Regions from separate parts of the Homo sapiens genome. Here region 2 is linked to region 1. Evidence: fine-mapped expression QTL. Tissue or cell type: putamen. Region 1 holds a variant in brackets; the other region holds the start of a gene. All regions are shown on one strand. Distances are from middle to middle.

Region 1 (2,842 bases):
AGGGAGGGGTGCTCAGCTGTCACGCTGCTGCCAGCGCTCACCGTCACAGCCACCCCCACCCCCGCAGAGATGTTGCACACTCTACCTTCATCTCCTCCCTGTCCAGGGCCAGCCTGATGGTGTCCTCCTCCCGGTGCTGCATCTTTGGCACTGCCCCCTGGCTTTGTTATAGGGTGATAAACTTTCCTGCGGGAGGACAGGGCTCAGACGCTGGGGCCCCTCCAACAGCCCTGCAGCTCCCCCTGCCATGCCCTGGCCTCCCACTCACTGATGGCATCCCTCTCTGTAGTACTGGAAGAATCCAAGTTCTTCTTTCTCCACCAGCTCACTCAGGTCTGCCTTCTCCTCCAGGTGGTCCATAAAGCCGCTCTGGAGCCAAAATAATGGGGTCACATCTCGCCAGCGACCTGCCCTCAGGTGGCATTTTCAAGTCATGGAGAAGGCGGAGGTGAGTTCCGGCATGGGCCAGCTTCTCCATGACTTCCTGCAGGGCCCGGTGGGTCTCCCCACTCACAGACTCGCCCCCAGGCCCTGGGGCTGGGACCGCTGCCTCTGGCTCCTTCTGGGCCGAGGCCACCGGGTGAGCCAGGCGCTGGCAGCACACCCTCTGCTCTTTCACCTGCTCTTGTAACTGTGCCTGCTTCTCCTGGGCACTAGCTCCAGCGGACTTGAAAAATGCCACCTGAGGGCAAGATGTGAGCATTCTTCTAGGGGCATACACAGAAGAAATGGGGCAGAGAGGTGGAGCGCAGCCCCTTCCCTTGGGGCCCCAGAGACTGCACATGTTGGTCACAGGTGAAATGGTGTCTGACCACTGGCTCTCGGAAGGGGTGAGGGTCCAGAGAAATCAGAAGGCAGGGAAACGAAGAGCATAAAGGGGTCTTGGAGGGACCACAGAGAAAGGTGGCAAAATGGGTGCAGGGGGAGTCAGGCTCACCATGGCCTCCCTGCTCTCCAGGTCCTCTGGGACACTCGGCATGGGCCGAGGTGCCTCCTCCCCCTCACTGTCCAGATGTTCTCCTCCGTGTCCTGTGGGGGGTGGCCAGAGGGGTCTTCAGACAACTCAACAAGGGAAGTATTGTGGGCCCACCTCT[G/A]CCTCCACCCTCATTGTGTAACCCTGAGCCAGGCCCTCCCCAGAGAGGAATGAGCTGCTGTTATTTATTTTTACTTTGAAGAACCAAGATCTTGCTATACTGCCCAGGCACATTCCCACTACTGGTCGGTGCGGGAGTTCTGACCTGCTCCCTTTCTGACCTCGGCCAGTTCAGCCATCCTTAGGCAACTTGGTGGCCCCCCGCTCACAGGAGGTCACCATATTGATGCTGAACTTAGTGCAGGCACCCGGTTAGTATAATGACCAGCTGTTCTAAAGGTCTCTTCCAACTCCTCAATCCTATGCTGCTAGCAGTCCCCCCTTCCTCCTGGGGCTCTCTCCTCTTCCTCTGAGCGGTCTCCCGTACCTTCCCCAGGGAGAGCCATGAGGCTCAACTGGGCCGTTAGCTGCTGTTTCTGCTGGCTGGCAGCTTCCAGACGCTCCTAAGGGGCCAGGAAAGAGTGAGAAGGCACAGAGTTTGCCAGGTCGTCCCCCTCACGGCCCCATCCTCGGCAGCTCCCTCCCCTGGGCCTCCTGCAACTTTTGGCAGGCCATCTCGGCCACCGCTTTGCCCCAAGCTTCCTGCTGCTGCAGCTGGTTCATTAGCTGGGTCTGCTGCAGTCACTGCCTGTACAGCGCCTCCTTCTCACAGGTCAGCTGCTGATAGGCGGCCACCTGCTGCTGATAGGTGGCCACGTACTGCTGCAGGTGACCCAGGTAATGGTCTGGCTGCTGCTGCAGACTCTGAGCCTCTTGGCTCTTCAGCTCCACCTGCAGGAAGACCCTGGGTGTGAGGGCACGTGGTGGCTGGTTTCCAGATTCTGGGCCCATTAATAGGGTAGCGAGGGCACTGTGGGGCTCTGTCGCCTGCCCAGGCCCCTGGCCCCTTACTCCAGGCCTAAGTGACTGCCTCCCTTTCCTAGAACCCCATGCCTCCTTCCCCAGCCTCAAATCTCATGTCCTCTTCCCACCATTTCAACTGTAGGCCACAGAATGGTAGAAAAGTAGTGGGAGCCAACCACCATCTGCTAAATGTGCTACAGGCCTAATGCTTCCCATGTATTATCTCATTTAATCCTCAGCACCTCTGTAAGGAAAATGCTAACTTCCTTTTGAAGTTAAAGAAACAGAGACTTAGAGATGTGAAGTACTTGAATGGTGACCAGTGGAACTGAGGCTGGAATCCAGTTTTAATCTAAGGAGTCTTTTTGTTTTGTTTTGAGACAGAGTGTCACTCTGTGGCCCAGGCCGGAGTGCAGTGGTGCAATCTCAGCTCACTGCAACCTCCACCTCCTGGGCTCAAGCAATTCTCGTGCCTCAGCCTCCTGAGTAGGTGGGATTACAGGCATGCGCCACCACCATGCCCCACTAATTTTTCTTTCTTTTTTTGTTTTTTGTTTTTGTAATTTTAGTAGAGATGAGGTTTTACCATGTTGGCCAGGCTGATCTCAAACTCCAAACCTCAAGTGATTCTCCTGCCTCAGCCTCCCAAAGTGTTGGCACTATAGGCGTAAGCCACCGCGTCTGGCATAAGAAGACTGTTATACCACTCTGTCTCTTCCCCTGTGATTGGGGGTGCTCCATGTCTCTAGCTGGAATGATGATGTCCAGACCTGGGAGGAGCCCAGGGCTACCCACCTCTAAAATCAGAGGGCAGGAAGCAAGAAACAGCCACAGGACTGCCCTGGAGGGTGCTGGGGTCACCTGCCCCCGGGCTGGAGCTGCCTCTGGCCTGGCACCTCCCCTCCC
Region 2 (2,671 bases), 380 kb after region 1:
CTATGCTTTCACTTTAAAGCTAAATTCCTTAAATTATCCATGATTTTATATTTTCATTCGAGACTGTCGGGCCCTTTATCTCTTCTCTGAAGCCAACGCCTGGCTCACTCAGAGAAAGTTTCACCTGCATTCCGCCATGTAAATTACGAGTTCACTTTCTCTCACAACCCAAGAGTCGGGGGCCACATCCTTCCCAGAGAGCTCTTAATATTCTTCTTCTAAGAGTATGGCCAAGAACCACAAGACTTTCTCAGTCCCTCTGGAAGCAATGGAAACGGACTGTTTCACAGCCTGCCATATCCTGCATTGGCAAACCGGTCCCGTCCGGGGCCTCCCAGCACAAACGACACTGACAGAGAGCTCTACCCCGCAGAGCACTACGGAGTGCGGTGCTGCGGCACATCCACCTGGGAAGTGGCCTTGGCCCGTCCAGGGCTTGGTTTTGGATCTGCCGCGCGTGTTCTCCAAACTGAAGATCACTTGTATTCATTTGGTGCAGGTCTAAGGCGCAGCGGGCTCCGTAAGAGCACCCCAGGAACGCACAGCCCTGAGAGCCCGCCCGGGTCTTCCTTTTGCACCAGCGAGGCCCCTGCGGGGGACTGGAAATCCCAGGTCTTGCTCTACCGAGCGTACCCTAGGAGCGGGCCGCGCATCGGCTGAAGCGGCGCTTCCAGGCGGGCGCTGGGCTCGAGCACCCCAGCACCGCGTCCGCAGGAGGCTCCCGGCCGCGGGTTGCGGGCCACGGCGAGGGCTGCCGGGCGGCGCGGGGCAGGTCTTGGACCGAGGGAAAAAGTCAGCCGGGGAAGCCCGCACACCAAAGCAAGCCGCTCCAGCCGCTGAGAACGGAGAAAAGCCGTGGCGTCGGCGAAGCGCCGGACGCTCAGGACGCACCTGTGATTCCTGGGCCGCTCCCGGGCCCGAGCGCCAGGACGCGGCGGCAGCCTGGGCACGCCGCGGGGAGCACCCGCCCGCGCAGCCTTCCCCCAACCTGGGCCCGGGCCCCGACCCCGTCCCCTGCCCCGACCCGGGCGCCCCCACCTGCGACCGCCTTCTCCGCCGCCCGCCTCCCCCACCCGCCCGCCGCCTGCCGCCTGCCGCCCGCCCTACCTCGCCGCTTGGCACGCACGATGCCCTTCTTCTGTAGCACGAACGTGGACCCGTTCACCAGGCTCGACACGACGGCCACGCCCAGGCCGAGCGACACGGCGGCGGGGCTCGGGCTACGCGCCCCCTCCCCGGCCGCCGCCGCCGCCGCCGCCGCCGCTGCCGCAGCTGCAGTCCCCATTCCGCCCGCGCCCGCCCTCCGAGCCTGCGCCTGCGCGCCGCGCCCCGCGGGGCGGGATGGGGGGTGACCGGGAGGCGCGGGCGGGGGAGGGGAGGGGGACGGGTGGGGGAGGAGCAGGAAGAGGGGCGGGGGCGGGACGGGGGTGCCAGGGACCGGCGCCTTAGGCTGCGGGGACAGCAGTGGCGCCGGACGCGGCGGCAGTGAGGGGCCGGTGAGGCGCTGGGTGGGGCGGGGGTTCCCGGATTTCGCAAATGGAAATGCAGGACTCCTGGTTAAGTTTCCAGCGCGGAGAAACACGCATACTTTCTGAGTGGTGTCCTCTGCAATATCCGGGCAGCGGAGCGCGGCAGGACGCACCGGCGGGCAGCGGTCCCCGAAGAGCCTCCAGCGGAGGCCGGCCCAACTCACCGGAGCGCGAAGCCCGGCGCGCCGCTGCAGAGATCGAAGGAGAGCCCTGGCGCTGGGCGTTTCTCTTCCGCCCTTGGCGCTAGAGTCAGCTACATGGGGCTCTGGGCTTGTGATCCCATAGTCTAGTTTCCTCGTTTTAATAAACTACAACAAGCCGGGCGCGGTGGCTCACGCCTGTAATCCCAGCACTTCGGGAGGCCGAGGCGGGTGGATCACAAGGTCAGGAGATCGAGACCATCCTGGCTAACACAGTGAAACCCCGTCTCTACTAAAAATACAAAAAATTAGCTGGGCGTCGTGGCGGAGGCCTGTAGTCCCAGCTACTCGGGAGGCTGAGCCAGGAGAAGGGTGTGAACCCGGGAGGCAGAGCTTGCAGTGAGCGGAGATCACACAACTGCACTCGAGCCTGGGCGACAGAGCGAGACTCCGTCTCAAAAAAAAAAAAAAAAAGAAACAACAACAAAATTACAAGCTTGAAAAATAGGAAAAAGTTATTTTATTTTTTTTGGAAAAAAATATTTTTTAAAGTGACTCAATTCCACAACCCTCACCTAATTATTAGTATTTTAGGTGTTTTCCCATAATGTATACATACTTTTACATGTTTCCAATTACAATATACGAAATTTCCTTTTTATTTAATATATATCAGTTTCTGTATCGGTACATAAATATGATTATTCTAATGACAGTATAATAATTTGTCTAACCATTCAGCCATTGTTGGGTGTTAGGTAGCTACCAGGTTGGTTTGTTTTTTTGAGACAGAGTCTCGCTCTGTCGCCCAGGCTGGAGTGCAATGGCGCGATCTCGGCTCACTGCAACCTTCCGCCTCCCGGATTCAAGCGATTCTCGGCCTCAGCCTCCGAGTATCTAGAATTACAGGCGTCCGCCACCACGCCCGGGTTAATTTTTGTATTTTGAGTAGAGACGCGGTTTCACCATCTTGGCAAGGCTGGTCTTGAACTCCTGACCTCA

The links. PIP is the estimated chance that this variant, and not a neighbour inherited with it, causes the effect.
Region 2: NIPA1 starts here. The variant in region 1 is fine-mapped to the expression of NIPA1 in putamen (GTEx, PIP 0.98).

What each region holds. Positions count from the first base shown.
Region 1 is chr15:23,164,484-23,167,325 of GRCh38, reverse strand. It overlaps the pseudogene GOLGA8DP and the pseudogene RN7SL106P. Among named protein-coding and RNA genes, the nearest start is that of GOLGA6L1, 29 kb to the right of the region's middle. The variant G/A (reference allele first, on the strand shown) is at 1,095.
Region 2 is chr15:22,785,271-22,787,941 of GRCh38, reverse strand. It overlaps NIPA1 (NIPA magnesium transporter 1), which reads right to left and starts at 1,298. Exons shown (of 5, transcript NM_144599.5): 1 at 1,108-1,298. The coding sequence starts at 1,285. RefSeq lists an enhancer at 251-360 and silencers at 711-840, 851-1,000, 1,071-1,430, 1,393-1,626.